4 linked regions of the Homo sapiens genome follow. The protein of the gene in region 4 interacts with the protein of the main gene of each other region in a biochemical or structural test. Each region holds a gene or a part of one and is shown on either strand. Other genes may lie near its edges. The genes, in order: UBE2D3, CDKN2A, OTUB1 and UBE4B.

Region 1 (7,023 bases), on a different chromosome or scaffold from region 4:
GATTAATTGAATTAATGTTTATTTATTTTACAGAAGGGTAGGAATTAGATGAGCTGTGTTAGTGTCAGGCCTGTTTTTTATGTGCCTGACATCCAGAATGGGCATAGTGAAAGGCTCATATATAGCTGTATATACAAAGCCTTTCTAATAGAGGGGAGTCAGTGTTGGTAAAAACCCAGTTCATGTAAGTTGTAAAACATGTCTTCGGATTGGTTCTTTGCATACCCAGAAGCAGTTAGGCATTCCACATTTTAACTTTAAATTCCTGAGTAGGTCAGTATCTTTGATCATTAAGTGGTCTTCAAAAGACTTGTGTTTGAATCTTGGTTCTATCATTTACCATTTGTACACTAGACTAAGTTCTTTAAGCCTCATTTTTCTCATGCATAAAATAGGGGCAATGCATGTATTTTCTGGTATTGATTAAAATGAGAAGCTTAGGCTTTTCTCTGTTCTCCTCTTGAAGGTGGTGTGTGTGTGTTACCTGGAATAGCTAACATTTGGTTTGCCAGTGGGCAGAATGGACTGTTGTGAAGCCATTTGTACACATCTGGCTATTGGAAGAAATAATCTACATGTGTAAAATTTTGTTTACAGATTATTCTGAAACATGATTATGTAGGCTTTATTGCTGTGTTGTACTTTTGAGAATTGAGATCTAGAATACTTGCGTTTCTGGATAACTTTTTAAAAAAACATTTTGGTGACGTGTAAAATGACTAGATAAATTAGGGTTTATTACTGTATAAGTTTTAAGTTTTTTTCTATTACTATAGACTGAATTTTCATGGAATAGATTATTTATTGCAGTGTAAATAGGTGATTTGGGTTCATTATTAGAGAAATGCTTGGAAACAAATGTTACGGAATATTTAGCAATAATATTTTAAATTTGAGTTAAGCATACTTTTCTTTTTACAGAATGACAGCCCATATCAAGGCGGTGTATTCTTTTTGACAATTCATTTTCCTACAGACTACCCCTTCAAACCACCTAAGGCAAGTATTTTCCCTCAAAATCTGTTAGTATAGATTTATGCTTTATTTCAAAGGAATAGAGCATTCTTGGAAGATAGGGTTCTGTGTAGGCTGTATATATATGTTGAATTGCACTCATGTATAGATGCTGACTCTTAACCTTTGGTTTAAAGAGCTAGACCTCAGTTTGAGCTTTGTAAATAGGAATAAGGTTTGCCTTTTCTTTAATGTTGCAAGATTCAGACCATGTGGAAGCTTCCGCCCTCATCTGTATTATTGTTACACAGATTCTGATTTTTGGGCTTTTGTTGTCTTGTAAGCATCAAATGTCCAACTTCAATTTATATTTGCACGTATTGTTACAGCATATGCTTATTATGCTTATAGTTTTGTATACGTAAGTGTAAATTTGTGAAAACTTAGAGTTGCTTAGTGCACTGGTTTATAGGTATTAAAAGCATATTATCCTTCACTTTTCAGTCATTAACATAAATTCAACCTGTATGAATAACTAGAAAAGGTAATATACAAAGGTCATAAACATGTCACTATAACAATCTCTAGTAATGTTATAGGTGCAATGTGATGGTTTCCATTTTTGTGATTCAAGTTTATGTTTTATGTACGGTGGAAATGCAGACTCAGGTGTACCTGTGTAACTTAATGAAACTTTAAATGAGATGGTCTACAAATTTTGGTTACATCCAAAAGTTAGGGCTTTTATAAATGAATGTGTTAAATACCTTTAAATTGCCCTTTGATTCATGATATGGTAGGGCCACAGTAACCTTTAGAACTTTACATCATATGAGTAATGAAATTTTTATCCAAAAGTTTAGGTTTCTGTTGTAAAAAGAGGAGGCAGGGGGTTGTGGTCAGATTGTAAAAATCAGTTTCTATAATATTTAGAACTTCTATGCTAATAGATGACATTTTTAACATTGTGGCTTGATTATTTTAAGTTTTGCTTTAAAAGATGTTTGTTTTTATTTGAATAAAATACTTAAAAGTTTTTGTTTTAGGTTGCATTTACAACAAGAATTTATCATCCAAATATTAACAGTAATGGCAGCATTTGTCTCGATATTCTAAGATCACAGTGGTCGCCTGCTTTAACAATTTCTAAAGGTAAATATTTCTAGTGAAATAAGCTGTTCTCATTGTCTAATAAAGCTTCATTCTTAGATCTACTTATCTGAGTATTTTTATTATGGCAGCTTTTTGGTAAGAGATGGGGAAGCAATAAAGTTACTTTTATAATTTTTGTTCTTTTAGTGGTGTTGATTAAAGATACTTTGTGAGAAGTTGTTAAAATTCAAATTGTGGTGAGTAGGCATTATTTGCCTAATGAGTTACCTTCATCTCATCTTATAATAGCAAAATTTATTTTAATAGACTTCTGTATTTTTCAATCCCAAACCACTTGGACATCTCACACTAACTTGCGGCCTTTTTACCAAGAATGGTATGATATACCTAAACTTAATAGAGCTTTTGAATCCTGAGGTTTCCACTCTAGGAAAATTCTGATTTTGCTTTCCTGGGTTAATTTTTAGACAAATCTTCAGTCATGTTTTATGTAACCATGATAGGTTGTTTCTACCTAATGACAGTCTAAAATTATATAATCTTCGAAAGATCTGTAGATCAATTCTGGTCTCTTAATAGGTATCTGTTACGTTATATGTAACAAGTTTTCCGGTCTCCGCATGAATATCCCAGGTGAAGTTGTAATAATTAACACTATTTCACCATTAATTGTTTTTTGATTTTATGAGTTCAGTAAGTACAAAAAAGCTTTTTCAAAAGGCAAGGCATTGTATAAAAGTTTCATATGTGTATATACTGCACTTGAATCTCATGGAGAGAGACTGTAGCAGTAGCATTTCCCAAACTTTATTGAGTAGAATCACTTAAGGGAGAAAAAGAAACAACTTAGGCAGATGCTGCCATAATTCGAGTGTTTTTAAAATTTTACACCTGTTTTTCACCTTCTTGGATGCTTTCTAATTTCTTTTCAAATCATGCTACATACCTAAATATCAGTTTCCAAGTTTTTCTACTACTGCTGGGAGTGTACAGTAACACTGAAAACTGTTTTTGTAAGGGCAGATTGAATTGGTATTGTTTTGTCGTTAAAGCAACTTACTTTTTTGGCAGCCATACTTTGCTAACTTATTAAACTAGCAGTCACAACTGAAGCTACCTTTTTTCTGTGAGTTATTGTATAGCCAAGTCTCCTATATTAGGTAATTTTATATTCTGCTGTATTTGGGGTTTGAAATTAAATTTGCTGTAGTCAATAAATATGTGACAGTGTTGTCTTTTTTATACTATTGCTTTTTTTAAAAAAAAATCGGTCAGAACCATTTCAAGCATTTATATCTTAACATTTTATAACAGCACCACCATATATGGTGACTGGCACATAGCAGGCACTCAAAGTGAATGCGATCTATGTTCCTTAATGCTTGACATCTTATACATCAGTATGTTGAACTGGTTAAGGTAAAAACTAGAGCTGATGACTCACTTAGTACTAAAGAGATTTTGGCATTGTATTTAACTAGTACTCTTGGGAATATGGTTTCTTGCTTACAAGTTCAAGGAGACATTTAGTGGAGCACTTGAGGGTTTTTCTCAGAAATTGCCAAGACAACGGCTAAGAATGGATTTTTCATCATGCCTAATGGCTATGAATATGGCATGAGTGTTACCTGCATATTCTTGCTAAAGTCCCCCCCCCCCCAGCCACTGAGTACCAAGAAACTCAAGTTCTAATATCATTTATGCCTATTTAAAATATATATATTAATATGGCATCAGTTGCCTATCTTAGAAACTATTTTTATGGCTAGTCTGCAGTGAATTTCATGCCACAAAACCCTGTTTTTAGCACTTCTTACTTACCAGGAGCTTGTCTTCTGTGAAACAAAATCTCTGTAAAACTGTGTCTCATTGAGATAAAGATACAAACTAATAAAAGTCTTTTGAGGATTGAGTTTTGTAATACACGGTTTAGAAAAATTTATTTATCCAAACTCCTGAAACTGGGTAACAGATGTTTTTGTTTTCTTGCAGTTCTTTTATCCATTTGTTCACTGCTATGTGATCCAAACCCAGATGACCCCCTAGTGCCAGAGATTGCACGGATCTATAAAACAGACAGAGATAAGTAAGTATGTTAAAAAGTTATTATAAAAGTGGTTTTACTTAATGAGTTAGGCTTATACTTTGCTTGTGACAGTGCCAAGAAGACTTGATATTTAGTAAGATAATAGTTAAAATATGGAGAAAGCTATTGAAATGTGGTTATTTAAAAAAACTTAACTAGGCTTTAGCTTATGTGACAGTGAATGCTCCCCTCTAAAATGTTTTATTGTTGTTTTTTTTTTCCTAGCGTGTTAAACAGTATCACTTTATTCTCAACTTTTGGGGAAGAAAGCAAATTTTTCTTTACCCCAAGCATGTTTTTCCAAAAATGTTAGTACTATTGTAAAAATTTGGTCTAAATTTCTCAAATATTTGAATTATATTTATGTTCAACTTAACCATTATAACTTTCATATGTTATAATTAATGCTAAGTGTACTTGTTCAATTAGGTACAATAGGTTAGCAAGAGAGTGGACAGAGAAATACGCTATGTTGTAGGGTAAGAGGATCTGCACTCTATGGTGCGCTTATTATGGTACTGCCAGCACTTGAGTGCTGCATGCGTTAAGGCACTGTATTAACTAACAAAAGGTAACAAATATGGCAGTCTTCTGAAAACTGTACATTTAACTGCTTGGTCTCTGTTTAACGTGAAAGTAAATATCTGGTAGCCGTTATTGCTTGAAAGTACTGCATGGCAAAGCAGTTACAATAGCACTAGTAAGAAATGGGAATTTATGTAGTATCTTTTTTTTTTTTCAAACTATCATGGTGTTTAAATTTTAGCTTGAGACTTTGTACCAATCCTATACAGAATGTGGTGGTTTAGTTCAAATTTTGCCGGGAGATAGTAATGTAAGGGAAAAACACTTTTAAGCCTAAGCATCTAAACTAAATGTTCATTACTGACAAGCATGCATTAGCGTCAGCTGTACTTTGTGGCTCCCTGTATGCTAAATAAAGCCTTTGTTTTAAAGTGCTGGCTTTTTGAGAGAGTATCCTTAGGAGATGACAATGAATTGGTAGAAAGAACTTTTTAAAAAGTTTAGGAAAGTTGTTGGACCATATTTGGTTCTTGGTTTGAAATAAAGCTAGTTAATATTTAAACAATATAAAAATTCTCCTGTGCATATATATATATATATATTCATTTCTTAAGGTTATCACTGTTTTTTGTTGTTGTAAGTAGTCTATGGCATGAGTATAATCCAGGGGGAAGCTGATAGTATTTATCAATGTTAGTAGTCTTCCTGAGTAATAACCTTGCTTGTGTGTGAATTACCTGTTGATCTTTTTAAACGAAGATGCCCTTGTTGTACTCAACAGGTCTCAGTGGTGCTTATTAGCCTCAGTTACCACACTTATTAAAAGTAACACGTGATTCTGATGAACACAACCACTCACACACACACCCCTTTTGAAAATTACTGCCCTTTGTCATTCTGCCCAGTGTCATCTTCCCCTTCTGCCTCTACCTAAGTCCCAAAGCCATTTTTTCTTGTAATATCCAGGACCAAGTAATTTCCCAAACTCTAGGATTCAGATAAAATTGTTCTAGTAAAAGCCTAGTTCTGGCCTTGGTGGAAATTTCTGTGGATAGATAGAATGTGTATACTATTTTAACATTTGTCCATAATGAACTGTAAAAATTTCTTCACGTTAAAATTAGAGCATGAGCTCGGTGGTAGAGAAAGAAAGGGTCTTTTGATTTTTGTTAGCCTCCCAATTTTCAGTGCTGCTTTCTTAGTTGTTTTTAAAATACTACTTTCAGAGCATCAGGCTCTCATTTCCCACATTGCTTTGAGTACCAGTGCTATTTCTCCCTTGTTGGCTTTTATTCTAATCATAGTCATTAGAGATGACTTCATGATGAGTCTGGAGATGATAAAATGGAAATCTTTCCCTTCCATTTAAAGTATTAGGAATTCTTTATTTTAACTTTTAAAAATAACATCTTTATTTACAGGTACAACAGAATATCTCGGGAATGGACTCAGAAGTATGCCATGTGATGCTACCTTAAAGTCAGAATAACCTGCATTATAGCTGGAATAAACTTTAAATTACTGTTCCTTTTTTGATTTTCTTATCCGGCTGCTCCCCTATCAGACCTCATCTTTTTTAATTTTATTTTTTGTTTACCTCCCTCCATTCATTCACATGCTCATCTGAGAAGACTTAAGTTCTTCCAGCTTTGGACAATAACTGCTTTTAGAAACTGTAAAGTAGTTACAAGAGAACAGTTGCCCAAGACTCAGAATTTTTAAAAAAAAAAATGGAGCATGTGTATTATGTGGCCAATGTCTTCACTCTAACTTGGTTATGAGACTAAAACCATTCCTCACTGCTCTAACATGCTGAAGAAATCATCTGAGGGGGAGGGAGATGGATGCTCAGTTGTCACATCAAAGGATACAGCATTATTCTAGCAGCATCCATTCTTGTTTAAGCCTTCCACTGTTAGAGATTTGAGGTTACATGATATGCTTTATGCTCATAACTGATGTGGCTGGAGAATTGGTATTGAATTTATAGCATCAGCAGAACAGAAAATGTGATGTATTTTATGCATGTCAATAAAGGAATGACCTGTTCTTGTTCTACAGAGAATGGAAATTGGAAGTCAAACACCCTTTGTATTCCAAAATAGGGTCTCAAACATTTTGTAATTTTCATTTAAATTGTTAGGAGGCTTGGAGCTATTAGTTAATCTATCTTCCAATACACTGTTTAATATAGCACTGAATAAATGATGCAAGTTGTCAATGGATGAGTGATCAACTAATAGCTCTGCTAGTAATTGATTTATTTTTCTTCAATAAAGTTGCATAAACCAATGAGTTAGCTGCCTGGATTAATCAGTATGGGAAACAATCTTTTGTAAATGCAA
Region 2 (6,937 bases), on a different chromosome or scaffold from region 4:
TGCCCCCACCCCATGTCTGCCCTTAGTTTCTGAGCTTGTTGAATGAATGAACAGGTGGTAGTCTTTTTTTGTTATAAGACTGATCAGAATTAAGACAGGTTTAAATTTCACGTGTAGAATTTTCAAAACTGCAAAGGCAGTGCAAATCTAAAAAAAGAATGGCATTCTCAGGAAAGAGGAAAAGTAAGTGTGAGAATAATAATAACAATAACCAACAAACTTTAGTAAATTTAGTAAATGTAGTAAATTTTTACATTAAAAGCTTTTGGACATACATTATCATATTTTATGGCCACATGAAATATATTATAATCCCATTTTGCACATAGGAAATCTGAGACTGGCATAAGGAGCACAGAGATCCAGGACTTTATATTTTCATTCTTCTAGGATTTTGCACCTCAGGTCGATATGTATGAGTAAACTGGGAGTATAATGGGCTCTTTAACAGAAAAACTAGGAAAGTTTTCCCACTATTATTAATTATTTACATAATATTTTTTTAATTTTATTATTATTTATACTTTAAGTTTTAGAGTACATGTGCACAATGTGCAGGTTTGTTACATATGTATACATGTGCCATGTTGGTGTGCTGCACCCATCAACTCATCATTTAGCATTAGGTATATCTCCTAATGCTATCCCTCCCCCCTCCCCCCTACATAAGATTTATAATGGATAATGGACTTCAATTTCTAGAGCAAAATGGCCCCACCCAAGGATGCCATAATCCTTCCAGAGCTCTACTGCAAGATATGAGATATACATATCTAAAACTTGTTCTTGGTATTTCCAAAGCAGTCAACTTTTACACCTGTTTATAATGCATCCAAATGTTGTTTTTATATGGTTGCATCTCCCATCTTCTTCACCAATAGCTATATATATTTTTCACAAGAGCTGAAAGAGTTCTTGATGTAGGAATCCATGGTAGAGTTTCAGAGAAATCCCTGAATTCACTGAAAGTTTTATCTAGAAATACATGTGCAAGTGAACACATCTTTTTTAAAAAAAATCATTACCTACTTTCTTTTTTGAGAAGAAGGTATTTATTTCAACAGACTCTTGAAGGAGCCTACTCTTCCCACTCTCCCACCCCCATTAAGAACCACTGTAGGCCGGGCACGATGGCTCATGCCTGTAATCCCAGCACTTTGGGAGGCTAAGGTGGGTGGATCACCTGAGGTCAGGAGTTCGAGACAAGCCTAGCCAACATAGTGAAACCCCGTCTCTACTAATAATACAAAAATTAGCTGGGTATGGCAGCATGTGCCTGTAATCCCAGCTACTCGGGAGGCTGAGGCAGGAGAATTGCTCGAACCCGGGAGGCGGAGGTTGCAGTGAACCGAGAGAGATCGTGCGGTGCCATTTCACTCCAGCCTGGGCAACAGAGCGAAACTCCATCTCAAAAAAACACACAAAACAAACAAACAAAAAGAAAGAACCATTGTATTAGTGATGGAAATGTGTTCCCTCCCTCCCATCCTGGCAACCACTTTCTTCCTCCTCCATCATAAAATATCTTAAACTAAACTAAAATAATTTTATTTATCGATAGTTTGAATTTTCCCTATCATTGCTACACAGCTAATTGAGAGGTACCCCGAGGAAAATATAAATGGTACAGTAATGCATTGTAGATTTTAATAACATACTTGACATCCCAAATTGTTTTCATTGGCTTCATTTTAAAAACTACATGTTTTAAAATCAAGCAGACACTAAAAGTACAAGATATACTGGGTCTACAAGGTTTAAGTCAACCAGGGATTGAAATATAACTTTTAAACAGAGCTGGATTATCCAGTAGGCAGATTAAGCATGTGCTTAAGGCATCAGCAAAGTCTGAGCAATCCATTTTTTAAAACGTAGTACATGTTTTTGATAAGCTTAAAAAGTAGTAGTCACAGGAAAAATTAGAACTTTTACCTCCTTGCGCTTGTTATACTCTTTAGTGCTGTTTAACTTTTCTTTGTAAGTGAGGGTGGTGGAGGGTGCCCATAATCTTTTCAGGGAGTAAGTTCTTCTTGGTCTTTCTTTCTTTCTTTCTTTCTTTTTTTCTTGAGACCAAGTTTCGCTCTTGTCTCCCAGGCTGGAGTGCAATGGCGCGATCTCGGCTCACTGCAACCTCCGCCTTCTCCTGGGTTCAAGCGATTCTCCTACATCAGCCTCCGAGTAGCTGGGATTACAGGCATGCGCCACCAAGCCCCGCTAATTTTGTATTTTTTAGTAGAGACAGGGTTTCGCCATGTTGGTCAGGCTTGTCTCGAACTCCTGGCCTCAGGTGATCCGCCTGTCTCGGCCTCCCAGAATGCTGGGATTATAGACGTGAGCCACCGCATCCGGACTTTCCTTTTATGTAATAGTGATAATTCTATCCAAAGCATTTTTTTTTTTTTTTTTGAGTCGGAGTCTCATTCTGTCACCCAGGCTGGAGGGTGGTGGCGCGATCTCGGCTTACTGCAACCTCTGCCTCCCGGGTTCAAGCGATTCTCCTGCCTCAGCCTCCTGAGTAGCTGGAATTACACACGTGCGCCACCATGGCCAGCTAATTTTTGTATTTTTAGTAGAGACGGGGTGTCACCATTTTGGCCAAGCTGGCCTCGAACTCCTGACCTCAGGTGATCTGCCCGCCTCGGCTTCCCAAAGTGCTGGGATTACAGGTGTGAGCCACCGCGTCCTGCTCCAAAGCATTTTCTTTCTATGCCTCAAAACAAGATTGCAAGCCAGTCCTCAAAGCGGATAATTCAAGAGCTAACAGGTATTAGCTTAGGATGTGTGGCACTGTTCTTAAGGCTTATATGTATTAATACATCATTTAAACTCACAACAACCCCTATAAAGCAGGGGGCACTCATATTCCCTTCCCCCTTTATAATTACGAAAAATGCAAGGTATTTTCAGTAGGAAAGAGAAATGTGAGAAGTGTGAAGGAGACAGGACAGTATTTGAAGCTGGTCTTTGGATCACTGTGCAACTCTGCTTCTAGAACACTGAGCACTTTTTCTGGTCTAGGAATTATGACTTTGAGAATGGAGTCCGTCCTTCCAATGACTCCCTCCCCATTTTCCTATCTGCCTACAGGCAGAATTCTCCCCCGTCCGTATTAAATAAACCTCATCTTTTCAGAGTCTGCTCTTATACCAGGCAATGTACACGTCTGAGAAACCCTTGCCCCAGACAGCCGTTTTACACGCAGGAGGGGAAGGGGAGGGGAAGGAGAGAGCAGTCCGACTCTCCAAAAGGAATCCTTTGAACTAGGGTTTCTGACTTAGTGAACCCCGCGCTCCTGAAAATCAAGGGTTGAGGGGGTAGGGGGACACTTTCTAGTCGTACAGGTGATTTCGATTCTCGGTGGGGCTCTCACAACTAGGAAAGAATAGTTTTGCTTTTTCTTATGATTAAAAGAAGAAGCCATACTTTCCCTATGACACCAAACACCCCGATTCAATTTGGCAGTTAGGAAGGTTGTATCGCGGAGGAAGGAAACGGGGCGGGGGCGGATTTCTTTTTAACAGAGTGAACGCACTCAAACACGCCTTTGCTGGCAGGCGGGGGAGCGCGGCTGGGAGCAGGGAGGCCGGAGGGCGGTGTGGGGGGCAGGTGGGGAGGAGCCCAGTCCTCCTTCCTTGCCAACGCTGGCTCTGGCGAGGGCTGCTTCCGGCTGGTGCCCCCGGGGGAGACCCAACCTGGGGCGACTTCAGGGGTGCCACATTCGCTAAGTGCTCGGAGTTAATAGCACCTCCTCCGAGCACTCGCTCACGGCGTCCCCTTGCCTGGAAAGATACCGCGGTCCCTCCAGAGGATTTGAGGGACAGGGTCGGAGGGGGCTCTTCCGCCAGCACCGGAGGAAGAAAGAGGAGGGGCTGGCTGGTCACCAGAGGGTGGGGCGGACCGCGTGCGCTCGGCGGCTGCGGAGAGGGGGAGAGCAGGCAGCGGGCGGCGGGGAGCAGCATGGAGCCGGCGGCGGGGAGCAGCATGGAGCCTTCGGCTGACTGGCTGGCCACGGCCGCGGCCCGGGGTCGGGTAGAGGAGGTGCGGGCGCTGCTGGAGGCGGGGGCGCTGCCCAACGCACCGAATAGTTACGGTCGGAGGCCGATCCAGGTGGGTAGAGGGTCTGCAGCGGGAGCAGGGGATGGCGGGCGACTCTGGAGGACGAAGTTTGCAGGGGAATTGGAATCAGGTAGCGCTTCGATTCTCCGGAAAAAGGGGAGGCTTCCTGGGGAGTTTTCAGAAGGGGTTTGTAATCACAGACCTCCTCCTGGCGACGCCCTGGGGGCTTGGGAAGCCAAGGAAGAGGAATGAGGAGCCACGCGCGTACAGATCTCTCGAATGCTGAGAAGATCTGAAGGGGGGAACATATTTGTATTAGATGGAAGTATGCTCTTTATCAGATACAAAATTTACGAACGTTTGGGATAAAAAGGGAGTCTTAAAGAAATGTAAGATGTGCTGGGACTACTTAGCCTCCAATTCACAGATACCTGGATGGAGCTTATCTTTCTTACTAGGAGGGATTATCAGTGGAAATCTGTGGTGTATGTTGGAATAAATATCGAATATAAATTTTGATCGAAATTATTCAGAAGCGGCCGGGCGCGGTGCCTCACGCCTTGTAATCCCTTCACTTTGGGAGATCAAGGCGGGGGGAATCACCTGAGGTCGGGAGTTCGAGACCAGCCTGGCCAACAGGTGAAACCTCGCCTCTACTAAAAATACAAAAAGTAGCCGGGGGTGGTGGCAGGCGCCTGTAATCCCAGCTACTCGGGAGGTTGAGGCAGGAGAATCGCTTGAACCCGGGAGGCTGAGGTTGTAGTGAACAGCGAGATGGAGCCACTTCACTCCAGCCTGGGTGACAGAGTGAGACTTTGTCGAAAGAAAGAAAGAGAGAAAGAGAGAGAGAAAAATTATTCAGAAGCAACTACATATTGTGTTTATTTTTAACTGAGTAGGGCAAATAAATATATGTTTGCTGTAGGAACTTAGGAAATAATGAGCCACATTCATGTGATCATTCCAGAGGTAATATGTAGTTACCATTTTGGGAATATCTGCTAACATTTTTGCTCTTTTACTATCTTTAGCTTACTTGATATAGTTTATTTGTGATAAGAGTTTTCAATTCCTCATTTTTGAACAGAGGTGTTTCTCCTCTCCCTACTCCTGTTTTGTGAGGGAGTTAGGGGAGGATTTAAAAGTAATTAATACATGGGTAACTTAGCATCTCTAAAATTTTGCCAACAGCTTGAACCCGGGAGTTTGGCTTTGTAGTCCTACAATATCTTAGAAGAGACCTTATTTGTTTAAAAACAAAAAGGAAAAAGAAAAGTGGATAGTTTTGACAATTTTTAATGGAGACGGGAGAAGAACATGTAGAAAAGGGGAAATGATGTTGGCTTAGAATCCTAACTACATTGGTGTTTAATATAGGAACATTTATTTATATAACATTTTAAAGTACTAAATTCATATTAGTATATTATCAAATGGATATATTATCAAATGGGTTTAAGCATCCTACACATTTTAATTCAATTGATTCATTTTCTTTTTGCTTTGGATTTCTATCATGATTTAAATATTTACATATGGGTTACTTTTTAGATTTTTCATACTATGAAATATAAGAAAAACCTTTAAGGCTAGTTTTATGACCAAGACGAAGGACTTCATTGAATACACAAAACAATAAATATACTGCAACATTTTGTCTTTCTTTTTGTAGCTGCAATTTGGTTTGCTTATACTTTCTCTTTGTCTCTTTGAAAACTGAGTCAGTTTCACTTTCTCAGGACAGGATTTAATAACCATAATATAATTTAGTATAATTCCTTGATTTAGGCAAATTATGCAATTTGTGTTTAGTATGAAATGTACCTAAAAATAAGTAACTCCTCTTTAACACCACCATCCTCAAACTAATATAACAAATAACAGTTATCCTAAAATAAATTGTCTACTTCCACCATGCAGCACTCAAATTTTAAGGTTGCTATGACTGCAGACAGTATTTTAAAATTCCTCTCTGGAAATGGCTTTGTTTCCAAGATGATTTAGGAACCAAAGAGGTGACCATCTCTTGTTTAATGAACTCTCAAATCATAAACCTGGGAAGTGTTTTAGTTTCCTACTGCTGCTGTTACAAATTATCACAAATGTGTTAGCTAAAACAAACACAAAATTATTATTTTACAGTTCTAGAGATCAGAAGTCAAAAATGGGTCCACAAGGTTTCATTCCTTTTGGAAACTCTAAGGGGCAATCTGTTTCCTTGTCTTTTCCAGCTTCTAGTGACCATCAAATTCCTTGGCTCATGGTCTCTGTATTTTCTCTGTGGCCTGTGCTTCCATTCTTGTATCTTCTCTCTGACTGTGACCCTCTAATAAAAACACTTGGGGTTATGTTGGGCCCACCCTGAAAATTCTGGATAATCTCCCTCAAGACCATTAATTAAATCACATCTGCAAAGCCTCTTTTGCCACATAAGTTAATGTATTAAAAGTTTTTGAGGATTAGGACATAGACATTGGGGGTGGGGGGGCATTATTCAGCCTACCACAGGAAGGAATTTTAGGGTTAATTAAACTAGCCTTCTTATTTTATACTTGAAGAAATTGAAGTTTTGGAATTGGAGAGCATTATGCTAAATGAAATAAGCCAAACACAGAAAGACAAATATCACATGTTCTCACTTATCTGTGAAATATAAAACAATTACATTCTTAGCAGTAAAGAGTAGAATGGTGGTTACTAGAGCTGGGGGGTGGGAGGAATGGGGAGATGGTAATCAAGATATAAAGCCTCAGTTAAGATGGGAGGAATAAGTTTGATTGTTTTTTTTGAGATGTGTTTCATAGCATGATGAATATAGCTAAATAGTAAATCCCAAATGCTCTCATTTGACAAAAATGTCAAATATTTGAGATGATGGATA
Region 3 (7,023 bases), on a different chromosome or scaffold from region 4:
ATCTTCTGGCCGGGCACGGTGGCTCACGCCTGTAATCCCAGCACTTTGGGAGGTTGAGGCGGGCAGATCACCTGAGGTCAGGAGTTCGAGACCAGCCTGGTCAACATGGCGAAACCCCATCTGTACTAAAAATACAAAAATTAGCTGGGAGTGGTGGTGCGCGCGTGTAGTTCCAGCTATTGGGAAGGCTGAGGCAGGAGAATTGCTTGCATCTGGGAGGCGGAGGTTGCAGTGAGGCAAGATCCCGCACTGTACTCTAGCCTGAGCGACGGAGTAAGACTCCGTCTCAAAAAAAAAAAAAAAAAAGGCCTGGCGCGGTGGCTTACACTTGTAATCCCAGCACTTTGGCAGGCTGAGGCGGGCGGATCACGAGGTCAGGAGATCGAGACCACGGTGAAACCCCGTCTCTACTAAAAATACAAAAAAATTAGCCAGGCGTGGTGGTGGGCACCTGTAGTCCCAGCTACTCGGAGAGGCTGAGGCAGGAGAATGGTGTGAACCCGGGAGGCGGAGGTTGCAGTGAGCCGAGATCGCGCTACTGCACTCCAGCCTGGGCGACAGAGTGAGACTCCGTCTCAAAAAAAAAAAAAAAGCATCTTCCCATAGGGCGATTGTGAGATTGAGGGAGGTGCAGGCTGGGCAGGAGCTGATGATCTCGGTGCCCATACGGGGGCTGACCAGGCTGGTGCTCAGTGGGGTAGGAGGGTTGCCAGAGGGCTGTTTCCCACAGCTTGCCTCCTGGATCTTTGTGGAGAGGCAGGCAGCAGTGGGGTCAAGGGGCCACAGATTTCCTCAAAGGGCCCTGCTGCATCACTCAAACGGAGGCAAACTTCACCACCCACTTTCTAGGTCTGTGAGCTGGGAGGATGACATGTGAAATGGGGCCAGGCATGGTGGCTCAAGCCTGGAATCCTAGCACTTTGGGAGGCTGAGGCCAGAGGATCGCTTGAGCCCAGGAGTTCAAGACCAACCCAGGCAACATAGTGAGACCTTGTCTCTCCAAATCAAAAAATTACTGGGTGTGGTAGCACATGTCTATAGTCCCAGCTACTCAAGAGGCTGCGGTTGGAGGATCACTTGAGCCCAAGAAGTTGAGCCATGATTGTACCACTGCACTCCAGCCTGGGTGACAGTGAGACCTGTCTCTTAAAAAAATAAAAAAATAAATAAATAAATAAATAAATAAATGTGACAATGGGTGTGTGGAAACAGTATCTGGTAGGCTCAGTGTAGGTGTTTAGTAAATGTTTCTCTTCCCCTGGAAGATGACAGATGCTTAGAGTCCTCTACTGGTAGGGGAGGCCTCTGTGGCCAGGTAGGTAACCCAGGTGATTGAAGGTGGCCAGGAAGTCAGATGGTGAACAAGGAGGGCAGCACAGCTCAGTATCAGCCAGACACTAATAGGGAGCAGAGGCCCCTGGGGGAAATGGGAGTGTCCATACCATTGTCTCCAGATCTGTTTTTCCAAGAGAAGCCAGAGGTAACCACAGCTCCTGACTTCTAACAGTTGGCAGCTAATTCAAATTTTAAATGTGTGGGCCAAACACACCTGCAGGCCAGATCCAGCTGTGTGAGATCTGTGCACTGTGATCTACTGAGGCCCCCTCCTCAGGGAGCTAGATTTCCTCAGGGTGCCTGTGGAGAGATGAAGGCACTGGCTGTGGAGCCTGATGGGCCTGGGTTCCAGTCCTGGCCTCACCACTTTGAGCTGTGTGATCTCGGGCAACACCCTGAAGCTCTTGGATCCCCTGTTCTCTCTGGGCGGGGACATTGTCTGCCTCACAGGGCAATTGTGAGGGTTGAAGGAGATGTTACGGGCGGTTGTAAGCAGCGGGTTACAAAGCTGCTCCTCTCCCCATACAGGGGGTGAGCTTCATTCATTCATTCCTCTTATGTCAGTGTCCTCCAGTGGGACCCCCCATGCCAAGGCCTGCCGCTCATGCTAGACCACCCTGGTAAAGTGGACAGGACAGGCTGGGCCCCAGGTTCTTCCCACGGAGTCATCAAACATTTGGATGTCCAGAGCATGCTGTCTAAAAGGCCTCTCTGTGCCCCCAGCACCCGCATTCTGTATGCTGTGCCTGAGCCCACCTTTTCTCCCTGGGCAGAGACAGCTGTGGCAGCAGAGCCCAAGCAGAGAGAGCTCCTCTCTCTCTAAATGGGCTCTTGTGAGGATCAATTAGGATGACGTTTATTCGCCCTGTGCCAAATCCCTGGCACAGAGAGTGTGCTCACAATGGCCATGGTGGCTGCTACAGTAGCAGTGGTGATTTGGGTTCTTTGTGGTCCTGGTGTGCTACTCATTTAACGTTTATTGAGAACGGACTGTGGTCCAGGCGCTGTTCTAGGTACTGAAGATAGAGCCATGCAGACAAAGTCCTGCCCTCACAAAACTTACAGTTCAGGGTGGAAAGACATGATAAGCCAAAGAGGGCTCTGGGACATGTGGGGTATCAGAAGGCGGTGAGTGCTGTGGAGAAAAATGAAAAGGGGATCGGGGCCGGGCGTGGTGGCTCACGCCTGTAATCCCAGCACACTGGGAGGCTGAGGCAGGTGGATCACCTGAGGTCAGGAGTTCGAGACCAGCATGACTAACATGGTGAAACCTCGTCTCTACTAAAAATACAAAATTAGCCGGGTGTGGTGGCGCATCCCTGTAATCCCAGCTACTTAGGCTGAGGCAGCAGAATCTCTTGAACCTGGGAAGTGGAGGTTGCGGTGAGCCGAGATTGTGCCACTGCACTCCAGCCTGAGTGACCAGAGCAAAACTCCACCTCAAAAAAAAAAAAGAGGGGATTGGGAGTGGGAGCATTTGCCATTTTAAACAGGGCTTGGTGAAGGCCTTGCTGATGAGGTGGTATTTGAGTAATGAACAGAAAAAGACCGGGGAGCGAGTCACAGGCGTCCGAGAGCAGTGCCCACCCAGGCCCGAGGCGAGAGGGCACCTGGATGGTTTGAGGCCAGCATGGAGGCCAGTGTGGCTGGTGGAGAATGAGGGGTTGGGGCTGGGGAACTGAGCGGGGCGGGGCGGGGTGGGGTGTTGTGGCGAGAGAAAGGACTCTGAGGGAGATGGAGATAGGGTGCATCTGGCAGGTGACTCTGGTCACTTTTCTTTTTTTTTGAGAGAGAGTGTTGCCCTGTCACCCAGGCTGGAGTGCACTGGAGTGCAATGGCACCATCTCAGCTCACTGCAACCTCCACCTCCCGGGTTCAAGCAATTCTCCTGCCTCAGCCTCCTGAGTAGCTGGGATTACAGATGCTCGCCACCATGCCTGGCTAATTTTTGTATTTTTAGTAGAGGTGGGGTTTCACCATATTGGCTAGGCTGGTCTTGAACTCCTGACCTCAAATGATCCACCCACTTTGGCCTCCCAAAGTGCTGGGATTACAGATGCCCACCACCATGCCTGGCTAATTTTTGTATTTTTAGTAGAGGCGGGGTTTCACCATATTGGCTAGGCTGGTCTTGAACTCCTGACCTCAAATGATCCACCCACTTTGGCCTCCCAAAGTGCTGGGATTACAGGCCTGGGCCATCACGCCAAGCCGACCCTGGCCATTCTCTTGCTGGGGTGAGAATAAACTCCAGAGGGTGAAGGGGAGGCAGGGACACTGCCAGGAGACTTGTGCAGTAAAATCTGCTGGAGGCGGGCAGCGGGTGGTAGAGGTGAGGAGTAAGAAGCAGTTGGATACCAGACATATTGAAGGGATGGATATGGTGATGGAGTCGGCAGCGACTGGAAGGCTTTGGGTGCTGTGGGTGACTGAGGTGGGGCAGCCTCGGGGAGGAGCAGTTGTTCGGAGGTTGATCTCAGCTGCACTCAGTGGAAATGCCTGTTGGACAGTTCAGAGGAGGTGTGGTGAGGCTGGTAGATAGGAGGATCGTAATTGGAGTTGAGAGTTGAGATTCACACTTGGGGCTATTTAAATCCTTGAGACTTTGGCTAGGGGCAATGGCTCATGCCTGTAATCCTAGCACTTTGGGAGGCCAAGGTGGGTGGATCACTTGAGGGCAGGAGTTCAAAACCAGCCTGGCCAACATGGTGAAACCCCATCTCTACTAAAAATACAAAAAAATTAGCCGGGCATAGTGGCGCGCGCCTGTAGTCCCAGCTACTCAGGAGGCTGAGACAGGAGAATTGCTTGAACCCGGAAGGCGGAGGTTGCAGTGAACCGAGATCGCGCTACTGCACTCCAGCCTGGACGACAGAGCGAGACTGTCTCAAAAAAAAAAAAAAAAAATTGCTTGAGACTGATGTCGTCAAGAGAGCAAGTATAATTTACATTTTTGTAGAGATGAGGTCTTGTTGTGTTGCCCAGGCTAGCCTTCAACTTGATCCTCCCCCCTTGGCCTCCCAAAACACTGGGATTACAGGTGTGAGCCACTGTACCTGGCCATGAGAGTGAGTGTAGTTTCAAAGAGGAAGCTGGCCGGGTGCGGCACTTTGGGAGGCCGTGGCAGGCAGATCACATGAGCCCAGGAGTTCGAGACCAGCCTGGGCAATATGGTGAAATCCCGTCTCTACAAAAAATACAACAATTAAATGGGTGTGGCGGTGTGCACCTGTAGTTCCAGCTACTCTGAAATCTGAGGTGGGAGAATTGCTTGAGCCTGGTAGGTTGATGCTGCAGTGAGCCGTGATCTTGCCACTGCACTCCAGCCCAGGTGACATAGAAAGCCCTGTCTCAGAAAAGAAAAAAAAAAGAAAAGTGGAAGCTGTCCCAGGCCTGAGCAGGGCGGGGTAGGCACATGGGAGACAGCCCTCATGCCCGTGGTCACATGGCAGGCACAGTGGCTAAGTGTGCAGTGACTGTTTTCCTTTTTCCTTTTTTGAAACGGAGTCTCCCTTTGTTGCCCAGGCTGGAGTGCAGTGGAGCGATCTCGGCTCACTGCAATCTCCACCTCCTGGGTTCAAGTGATTCTCTTGCCTCAGCCTCCAGAGTAGCTGGAACTACAGGTGTGTGCCACCACGCCCAGTTAATTTTTGTATTTTTAGTAGAGACGGGGTTTCACCATGTTGGCCAGGATGGTCTTGATCTCTTGACCTCGATATCTGCCTGCCTCAGCCTCCCAAAGTGCTGGGATTATAGGCGTGAGCCACCACACCCAGCCTCAGTGACTGTTTTCTTGCAGGTGACACACCATGTCTCGAAGGGTGCTGTATGGTTTGGTGGCATCCCTGACCCTCAGAGCTTAGAGAGATGAGGAGTGGCCTTGGAGGCAGGAGGAAGACAAGGAGAGGGTGGGGGCGCCAGCCCAGGGAAGGAGGCATCTAGGCAGGGCCACAGCCAGTGGCCTCAGTTCTGCTAAGGGGCCAGTGGGGGTGGGGCGCTGGGTTTGCCCCCTCTGATTGAGGGCGTTCAGCTGACCTTGGCTAGAGCAAAAGCCTCCCGAGGGAGAAAAGAGGTGGAGGCAGCACGGACAGCTTCATGAGGAGTTTTGCTGTAAAGAAAGCAGAGAAATTGAAGGGTAGCCAGACAGAAACGTAAAGTCCAGGATTCCCTTCCTTTTAAAGAAGTAGCTGAATGTGTATATGCTGTTGGGTCTAAACCAGTAGGGTGGGAAAAATTGATGATGGGGGTACTTCCTAGGATGATGTCTTTTTTTTTTGAGATAGGGTCTCACGCACTCTGTCACCCACGCTAGAGTGTAGTGGTGCCATCACAGCTCACTGTAGCCTCGACCTCCTGGGCCCACACAGTCCTCCGACCTCAGCCTCTCGAGTGGCTGGGACCACAGGATGCACCACCATGTGCAGCTCACTTGCTTATTTTTCAAGATGGAGTTTTGCTCTGTTGCCCAGGCTGGAGTGCGATGGCGCAATCTCGGCTCACTGCAACCTCTGCTTCCCGGGTTCAAGCGATTCTCCTGCTTCAGCCTCCCGAGTAGCTGGGATTACAGGCATGCACCACCATGCCGAGCTAATTTTATATTTTCAGTAGAGATGGAGTTTCGCCATGTTGGTCATGCTGGTCTCGAACTCCCGACCTCAGGTGATCCAACCACCTCAGCCTCCCAAAGTGCTGCGATTACAAGCGTGAGCCATCGCGCCCAGCCACTTATTTTTTTTAGAGAGACGGGGGTCTCACTGTGTTGCCCAGGCTGGTCTCGAACTCCTAGGCTTAAGCGTCCTCCCACCTTGGCCTCCCAAAATGTTGGGATTATAGGTGTGAGCCATGGCGCCCAGCTTGGAATGATGTGCTTGAGCCTGAGGGTGGGGGTGGGCTAGTGTGGAGTGGAGAGGCAGCTTAGGTGGCAGCTGGAACAGATCCTCTGAGGATTGTGGGAGGAGGCCAAAGGCAGATGTGCTGGTGGGGGCTGAGGAAAAAAGACAAGGTCATCAGCTGGGGGTAGGAGCAAGATGGGTAGGGGAGAGGGGAGGGTGCCCAGGCCAGGGGAGTGAAGTGTGCTTGCCAGGTGAAGTGTGCGTGGTGGGTGGGCACCTGTAATCCCAGCTACTTGGGAGGCTGAGGCAGGGGAATCGTTTGAACCCGGGAGGTGTAGGTTGCAGTGAGCCGAGATCGCGCCACTGCACTCCAGCCTGGGCAACAAGAGCAAAACTCTGTCTCAAAAAAACAAGTAGAGGAGGGAGGCTGTTTCTAGCCCCAGGAGGGCTGCGGGCAAGGCTTAGAGGTGGGGGAACTCTTCTCAGTGTGGCGGGAGCGGGGCTGAGCTGGGCTGTGCAGAGGGCCCCAGCCACCTGGTTGAGGCGTGGAGGCCAGCACTCCACCCTGGCCCTGACTTGCTTGCCCTGAAGTTCTCTTGGGCTGAAAGACTGGAGGAAACGCATTGCTCAAGGACATTCACTCACCTGTTGTTGTACAGTCCTGTAGGCCCCGCAGAACTTTAGTGACCCATGCAACTAGTTTGTCCTTAAGTGCCCAGCTTCCTGCCGTCTTTTGGGAGGACTCTGGGCAGTGGGCCGCTCCCATTGCCACATTCAGCAGCCTGTTTCAGGGACCCAGGGTGGCAGGTGGCTGCTGGGAGCTCAGTTGCCACCTTTGGAGTGTGACCTTTGCTGG
Region 4 (7,981 bases):
TTGAGACCATCCTGGGCTAACACGGTGAAACCCCGTCTCTACTAAAAACACAAAAAATTAGCCGGGCGTGGTGGCGGGCGCCTGTAGTCCCAGCTACTCGGGAGGCTGAGGCAGGAGAATGGCGTGAACCCGGGAAGCGGAGCTTTGCAGTGAGCTGAGATCGCGCCACTGCACTCTAGCCTGGGCAACAGAGCGAGGCTCCGTCTCAAAAAAAATAAAATAAAATAAATAAAAAATAAAAAAAAATAAAAAAACTATCTCTGGCCGGTCACGGTGGCTCACGCCTGTAATCCCAGCACTTTGGGAGGCCGAGGCGGGCAGATCACAAGGTCAGGAAATCGAGACCATCCTGGCTAACACAGTGAAACCCCGTCTCTACTAAAAACACAAAAAAATACAAAAAACTAGCCGGGAGTGGTGGCGGGCGCTTGTAGTCCCAGCTACTCCGGAGTCTGAGGCAGGAGAATGGCGTGAACCCGGGAGGCAGAGCTTGCAGTGAGCTGAGATAGCGCCACTGCACTCCAGCCTGGGCGACAGAGCGAGACTCCGCCTCAAAAAAAAAAAAAAAAAAAAAAAAACAGTATCTCTGCCTTAAGAGAAATTACTCACTAGAATTAACATTAATGAAAAACGGGGGAGGTAGAGAAACTTTTAAAAAACCACATAAAACAGGCCAGGCGCGGTGGCTCACGCCTGTAATCCCAGCACTTTGGGAGGCTGAGGCGGGTGCATCACGAGGTCAAGAGATGGAGACCATCCTGGCCAACATGGTGAAACCCCATCTCTACTAAAAATACAAAAAATAGCCGGGCGTGGTAGCGGGCGCCTGTAGTCCCAGCTACTCAGGGGGCTGAGGCAGGAGAATGGTGTGAACCCGGGAGGCGGAGCTTGCAGTGAGACGAGATCGCGCCACTGCACTGCAGCCTGGGCGACAGAGCAAGACTCCGTCTCAAAAAAACAAACAAACAAAAAAAAACCCACATAAAATAAAGCGATTCTAAGGAGATTTCCTACCGAATGAAAGAAACTGTGTAATATTCTCTTCACTTAAGATTACATTTCTGCTGTATTCGAAAAAAACAAAGTAACGCCGAATGGGCAGTCCTGATTTTCCAAACCAAGTATCCAAGTATCACAATCAACAAAATCATTTGCTTCCTTTCCTACCTGACCCTTAACACACCACTGCGTGTCCTATCCCAGGAGAATTTCAGTCCCTAAGTAAACACACTAAGTACTCTGTAGCTAAAACTGGAGCATGGAAGTCTTGTAGTACAATCAACTTGATGGATGACTGCTTTCCTAATACTGTAGGGAAGTTTACATGATGAACCAGTGAAGAAATGTGGAGGTAGGCTAAAGAGGGTATGGCCAGTAGGGGTCCTGAAAGGGAAGCTCCTAATTTGCAAAAAGGAAGAGAAAAGGCAGTAGAATCATAGGAAATTCCTTGTACCCTAATTGCCACTGCTTTTTGGTTGTTTTTTTTTTTACAACAACCTAATTTATTAAACAATCTTTAAAACATCAAGAAGTAGATCTGTATAACTCCTTTAAGAAATGAGAACAGGAGAGAGTTTAGAAAGTCATTTGCTTCCACTTGCTTCCCGTTCAGTCTCTGCTACAGCAAAACACAAGTTTGAAAGATTCAAGAAGTAGGAAAAGATAGAATGTAACAGAAGAATGCCAGAAGTCATTAGTGGTCTATTAAGTACCAGAATATAACTGGAATTCTCTAAACTGTGGAGAAGATACATATTTTGTTAAATATCAAAGAATCTGTCTGTAAACCACCCCTCAAGCAAAAATATATGTTTAATCAAGCTTATACAGTGCAATAACCACACATATCTGGAATTTCAAATGCTTTCTTTAAAAATATTCACCCACCATACATTCTCATTCCATCCAAAATTGTTCTTTAAATTCCTGAAGACACAGACACACACACACTTTAACTTCATGTAAATCTCGCCCTTCTTGTTCGCATACCCTGAAGAAAAGAATAAACACCTCAAGATGCTCTCTCCTCTTGTTCATACCCTAAAAGAACACTCGGAAAGAAGCAAATGGAGTTCAGAATGAAGAAAGAAGGCAACAGAATAAAGGAGAACAAAACCAGAGACCCTATCGGGGAGTCACGTTATTCTTGGAAAATATCATCTCCGTTCCTTCTCCAAGCCCAAAGGCCAGACAGCACTGGCGCAATACCATCCCTGTCCAAAGCGCTAACGAGTTGCCAACTAATCCCTCAAGGTGTCCCCCAACCTCCTCACCTCATCAGCGCTCAGCTCCTCCATCGCTTTCCTCTTAATGGTGAAAGGCGTTAAGGAGAGATCCTTCTGTTCTCGAGACCACGGCGGGAGGAAGGAGAGTGGAAGGTGTCTATCAGGCTGTCTGGTCCCCCGAATGGGGGAGGTTTCAGAATTGCATAGTCAGAGGTTAAAAAATAAGAACACGAGAGGCACTAAACTGCCTTGGCTTCGGTCACTCCAGTCGCCCCACAGACTACTACAGCCGCTTGTTCCCTGAGCAGCCTCCTTTGGCCGCCACTGCTGCTGCTACAGGGTTGTCTTAAGGCGCCACTTATTACCCTCTGCTTCCCAGGTTACCCAGCTAGGCAGCGCGGTCTCCAGTTCGTCTCGTGCCCCGAGCCTGCTGTTTCTTCGTGATAGTGGCGCGGTAGCTGCGTTCCTACAGCAGATCCTGCTCTCCTTCCTACCCTTTGCTCCTGGCGGGAACTGGTCGACTGCAGAGTGGATACCCCGAGGTAAGGCGACCCCACAGCCGTCCTGGCAGAGCCCAGCACTGTAAGGGAAGCCCCTCCCCTCCCAAAGCAGGCCGGCCACGCCCCGCCTCCACGCCGGAGCCCGGGTAGGGGGGAGGGGGAGGATGGGATGCGCGTAGCTCTCGCTGGAAGAGTAAATCCTCCTACCCCTCCACCCCTACTCTTTCCCCCTCGCCCCACCAAGTATTATTCATCAAAACAACAGGGCGGCCATCTTTGAAAGGGATCACGTGACCCCCGTCAGGGAGGCGGGGCTTCTGGCGCCGGGACGTGGCAGCCAATAGGCCGCGGGCGCCGCGCCGCCGAGTTCCTCTCGCCTGCGTCCTCTCCCCGCCTCCGTCCCACCCCGTCCCGCGCAGCCGCGCCGGACGTGGGGAGGGGCAAAGGGAGGCTGGCGGCTGGGCGGGGCGTTGCCACGGCGACCGCGCTGGGGCTGCGGGCGCGGCGGGCCTGAGCCAGGTAGGCTGGCAAGGGGAGGGACGACTCCCAGACTCGCGTCGGGGAAGATCCACCAGAAGGTGGCGCTGGCCCGCGGCCCGGGGGCCCGCCGCGCCTCCGTTGTTCCCAATCGCCTGCTTTTCTGTGACTTGGGGGCCTAGAAACACCTCATCGCTCCCACTGGACTGTGCGCGCCCGCCGCCTAAGCGAGGGAAAAGAAAACGGAAAACGTCTCCTTGACCCCGGGAGCGTGATCTACCGTATTGAGCGCTCATTTTCTGAAACATCTGCCACACACTCTTCCACCTCCTCCAGGAAAGCCCAGTTGGAAGAAAACTCGAACACAAGAACTCCCATTCATTTTATTTTACCTTGGCCTTTTAGAGATACTTCCTGGGTTTTTTTTTTTTTAAGTGTGTTCAAAAAGTATTGGTAAAATTTGAAAGTATAAATGGATGAGAGACCCAAATCACTGAATTGTACACAGCAAATGCAAGGAAGACGTTTGGAGTCAGTGGGGGAAAACCATCCTCCGGTGCACAAGAATACAAATATTTGGCCGGGCGCGGTGGCTCACGCCTGTAATCCCAGCACTTTGGGAGGCCGAGGCGGGCGGATCACGAGGTCAGGAGATCGAGACCATCCTGGCTAACACGGTGAAACCCCGTCTCTACTAAAAAATACAAAAAATCAGCCAGATGTGGCGGCGGGCGCCTGTAGTCCCGGCTACTCGGGAGGCTGAGGCAGGAGAATGGCGTGAACCCGGGAGGCGGAGCTTGCAGTGAGCCGAGATCGCGCCACTGCACTCCAGCCTGGGCGACAGAGCGCGACTCCATCTCAAAAAATATATATATATGTATGTATATATATATTTATAAAATATAAATCTAAGTTGAGCGATCAAAGTAACAGTACCATGAAATTCCAGATTTTGCCGCTGACGAAGACTATAAGTGGATTGGATGGCTCACTAAGCCATAAAGACTGCATTCCAGAATTAAGAGTTACAATGTATTTGCTACATGCTTAAAATAGGAACCTGACTACTAGATATGTAAGGAATTTGTGAGTAAAAATATGTAAGGAATTTGTGAGTAAAAATAAATCACTGCTGGCTTTGCATATTATCTGCTCTCCAGGAAAGGAATTCTGTGTAAGCCAGAACTTGAACCCCTGGTGACATTGATGTTAAAAGTTTACTTTTTTTAACCTCATTATTGCCATCTAATTTACATACCATACAATTCACCCAATTAAGGTGTACAGTGGTTTTATTATGTTCACAGTTCAGTCATCCTCACTGTCCAATTTCAGAACATTTTCATCATCCCAAAAAGAAACCCTCAAAGCCATTAACAGTCACTCCCGGGCTGGGCGCAGTGGCTCACGCCTGTAATCCCAGCCCTTTGGGAGGCCAAGGCGGGTGGATCAAGAGGTCCGGAGTTTAAGACCAGCCTGGCCAAGATGGTGAAATACAAAATACAAAAATTAGAAGGGCGTGGTGGCGGGCACCTGTAATCCCAGCTACTTGGGAGTCTGAGGCAAAGAATTGCTTGAACCCGGGAGGCAGAAGTTGCAAGGAGCCGAGATCGTGCCACTGCACTCCAGCCTGGGCAACAGAGCGAGACTCCGTCACAAAAAAAAAAGACTCCTGCAGGATAACTACCTTCTGTCTTGGTGAATTTGCCTATTCTGGACATTTCACATCAGTGGAGCAATACACCGTGTGGCCTTTGGGGTTTGGCTTCCTTCACTTAGCATATGTTTTCAAGGTTCACGCATATTGTAGCATATATCTGTACTTCATTTCTTTAATGCCAAATGTATCACTGTATTGCTGTAGCGCATTTTGTTTATCAATTCATAGTGATATTTGGGTTGTTTCCACCTTTTGACAATTATGAGTAATGCTGCTATAAACATTCATGTACAAGTGTTTGTTTGGACATATGTTTTTATTTTTATTCCTTTTAGGCATATACCTAGGAGAGGAATTGCAGGATTACATGTTTGACTTTTTGAGAAACTGTCAAACTGTTTTCCAAAGCAGCTGCACTGCCACCAGCAATGTGTGAGGGTTCTAACTTCTCTACATCTCTACCAACAATGGTTTTTGTCTGTCTTTTTTATTGTAGCCACACCAGTAGATGTGAAATGGTATCTCTTTGTGGTTTTGTTTTTCATTTTCCTAGGAGCTAATGATGTTGAACATCTGCTTAGGTTTATCTTCTTTGGACAAATACCTATTCATTCATATTCTCTGTTCTTTTTTTTTTTTTTTTTTTTTTTTGAGATGGAGTCTTGCTCTGTCACCAGGCTGGAGTGCAGTGGCGCGATCTCAGCTCACTGCAACCTCCACCTCCCAGGTTCAAGTGATTCTCCTGCCTCAGCCTCCCAAGTAGCTGGGCCTACAGGCGCCCACCAGCATGCCTGGCTAATTTTTGTATTCTTAGTAGAGATGAGATTTCACCACGTTGGCCAGGATGCTCTCGTGGATCTCTTGACCTCGTAATCCGCCCACCTCCGCCTCCCAAAATGCTGGGGTTACAGGCATGAGCCACTGTGCCCGGCTTTTTCTCTTTCTTTTCTTTTTTCTTTTTTTTAAGACAGAATCTTGCTCTGTCACCCAGGCTGGAGTGCACTGACACAATCTCGGCTCACCGCAACCTCTGCCTCCTGGGTTCAAGCGCTTCTCCTGCCTCAGCCTCCCGAGTAGCTGGGATTACAAGCATGGGCCACCACGCCCGGCTAATTTTTGTATTTTTAGTAGAGACAGGGTTTTGCCATGTTAGCCAGGCTGATCTCAAACTCCTGACCTCAAGTGATCCACCCACATCGGCCTCCCAAAGTGCTGGAATTACAGGCGTGAGCCACTGCACCTGGCCCTCTGTTTTTTTGTGTGTGTTTTTGTTTTTTTGTTTTGTTTTTCTTTTTCCCTCTGTTCATTTTTAATTGGGTTGTCTTCTTTTTTTTTTCTTTTTTTTTATTTATTTTTTTTATTGATCATTCTTGGGTGTTTCTTGCAGAGGGGGATTTGGCAGGGTCATAGGACAATAGTGGAGGGAAGGTCAGCAGATAAACAAGTGAACAAAGGTCTCTGGTTTTCCTAGGCAGAGGACCCTGCAGCCCTCCGCAGTGTTTGTGTCCCTGGGTACTTGAGATTAGGGAGTGGTGATGACTGTTAATGAGCATGCTGCCTTCAAGCATCTGTTTAACAAAGCACATCTTGCACCGCTCTTAATCCATTTAACCCTGAGTGGACACAGCACATGTTTCAGAGAGCACAGGGTTGGGGGCAAGGTCACAGATCAACAGGATCCCAAGGCAGAAGAATTTTTCTTAGTACAGAACAAAATGAAAAGTCTCCCATGTCTACTTCCTTCTACACAGGCACGGCAACCATCCGATTTCTCAATCCTTTCCCCACCTTTCCCCACTTTCTATTCCACAAAACCGCCAGTGTCATCATGGTCCGTTCTCAATGAGCTGCTGGGTTCACCTCCCAGACGGGGTGGTGGCCAGGCAGAGGGGCGCCTCACTTCCCAGTAGGGGCGGCCGGGCAGAGGCACCCCTCACCTCCCTCCCGGGTGGGGTGGCTGCCGGGCGGAGACGCTCCTCACTTCCCAGACGGGGTGGCTGCCGGGTGGAGGGGTTCCTCACTTCTCAGACGGGGCGGTTGCCAGGCAGAGGGTCTCCTCACTTCTCAGACGGGGCGGCCGGGCAGAGACGCTCCTCACCTCCCAGACAGGGTTGCGGCCGGGCAGAGGCGCTCCTCACATTCCAGACGGGGCGGCGGGGCAGAGGCGCTCCCCACATCTCAGACGATGGGTGGCCGGGCAGAGACGCTCCTCACTTCCTAGATGGGATGGCGGCCGGGCAGAGACGCTCCTCACTTTCCAGACTGGGCAGCCAGGCAGAGGGGCTCCTCACATCCCAGACGATGGTCGGCCAGGCAGAGACGCTCCTCACTTCCCAGACGGGGTGGTGGCCGGGCAGAGGCTGCAATCTCGGCACTTTGGGAGGCCAAGGCAGGCGGCTGGGAGGTGGAGGTTGTAGCGAGCCGAGATCACGCCACTGCACTCCAGCCTGGGCACCATTGAGCACTGAGTGAACGAGGCTCCGTCTGCAATCCCGGCACCTCAGGAGGCCGAGGCTGGCGGATCACTCGCGGTTAGGAGCTGGAGACCAGCCCGGCCAACACAGCGAAACCCCGTCTCCACCAAAAAAATACAAAAACCAGTCAGGCGTGGCAGCACTCAGCAGGCTGAGGCAGGAGAATCAGGCAGGGAGGTTGCAGTGAGCCGAGATGGCAGCAGTACAGTCCAGCTTCAGCTTGGCATCAGAGGGAGACCATGGAAAGAGAGGGAGAGGGAGGGGGAGGGGGAGGGGGAGGGGGAGGGGTTATTTGTCTTATTGTTGAGTTATAAGAGTTCTTTTGTTTGTTTTTATGTTGTTTATATTTATACGATTCCCAAACTATTTTTCTTTTATTATTATTTTTTGAGTTGTAAAAGTTATTTACATATTCTGGATACTAGTCCTTTATCAGATATATGATTTGCAAATATTTCTCCCATTCTGTGGATGTCTTTTCACTTTCTTGATTGTATAATTTGCAGCACAAAAACAAAACAAAACAAAAATACAACAAAAAAAAACTTTTAATTTGGGCCTGATATAGTGGTTCACACCTGTAATTCCAGCACTTTGGGAGGCCGAGGTGAGGGGATCGCCTGAGGCCAGCACCAGCCTGGGCAA

The links.
Region 1: the proteins of UBE4B (region 4) and UBE2D3 form a complex in vitro, tested with the Homo sapiens proteins (5 studies listed by BioGRID and IntAct, with this or other methods).
Region 2: the proteins of UBE4B (region 4) and CDKN2A form a complex in vitro, tested with the Homo sapiens proteins (one study listed by BioGRID).
Region 3: of the proteins of UBE4B (region 4) and OTUB1, one has a biochemical effect on the other in vitro, tested with the Homo sapiens proteins (one study listed by BioGRID).

What each region holds. Positions count from the first base shown.
Region 1 is NC_000004.12:102,796,537-102,803,559, reverse strand, and holds part of UBE2D3 (ubiquitin-conjugating enzyme E2 D3), read left to right. Parts: intron 1-921; coding exon 922-999; intron 1,000-2,000; coding exon 2,001-2,106; intron 2,107-3,984; exon of another isoform or gene 3,985-4,059; coding exon 4,060-4,153; intron 4,154-4,582; coding exon of another isoform or gene 4,583-4,631; exon of another isoform or gene 4,632-4,632; intron 4,633-6,099; coding exon 6,100-6,145; 3' UTR 6,146-7,023. UniProt on the Homo sapiens protein: Accepts ubiquitin from the E1 complex and catalyzes its covalent attachment to other proteins. In vitro catalyzes 'Lys-11'-, as well as 'Lys-48'-linked polyubiquitination.
Region 2 is NC_000009.12:21,971,848-21,978,784, reverse strand, and holds the start of CDKN2A (cyclin-dependent kinase inhibitor 2A), read left to right. Parts: upstream 1-3,927; 5' UTR 3,928-3,957; coding exon 3,958-4,107; coding exon of another isoform or gene 4,108-4,308; exon of another isoform or gene 4,309-4,381; intron 4,382-6,937. UniProt on the Homo sapiens protein: Acts as a negative regulator of the proliferation of normal cells by interacting strongly with CDK4 and CDK6. This inhibits their ability to interact with cyclins D and to phosphorylate the retinoblastoma protein.
Region 3 is NC_000011.10:63,989,438-63,996,460, forward strand, and holds part of OTUB1 (ubiquitin thioesterase OTUB1), read left to right. Parts: intron 1-7,023. UniProt on the Homo sapiens protein: Hydrolase that can specifically remove 'Lys-48'-linked conjugated ubiquitin from proteins and plays an important regulatory role at the level of protein turnover by preventing degradation.
Region 4 is NC_000001.11:10,027,987-10,035,967, reverse strand, and holds the start of UBE4B (ubiquitin conjugation factor E4 B), read right to left. Parts: upstream 3,011-7,981; 5' UTR 2,298-3,010; coding exon 2,274-2,297; intron 1-2,273. UniProt on the Homo sapiens protein: Ubiquitin-protein ligase that probably functions as an E3 ligase in conjunction with specific E1 and E2 ligases. May also function as an E4 ligase mediating the assembly of polyubiquitin chains on substrates ubiquitinated by another E3 ubiquitin ligase.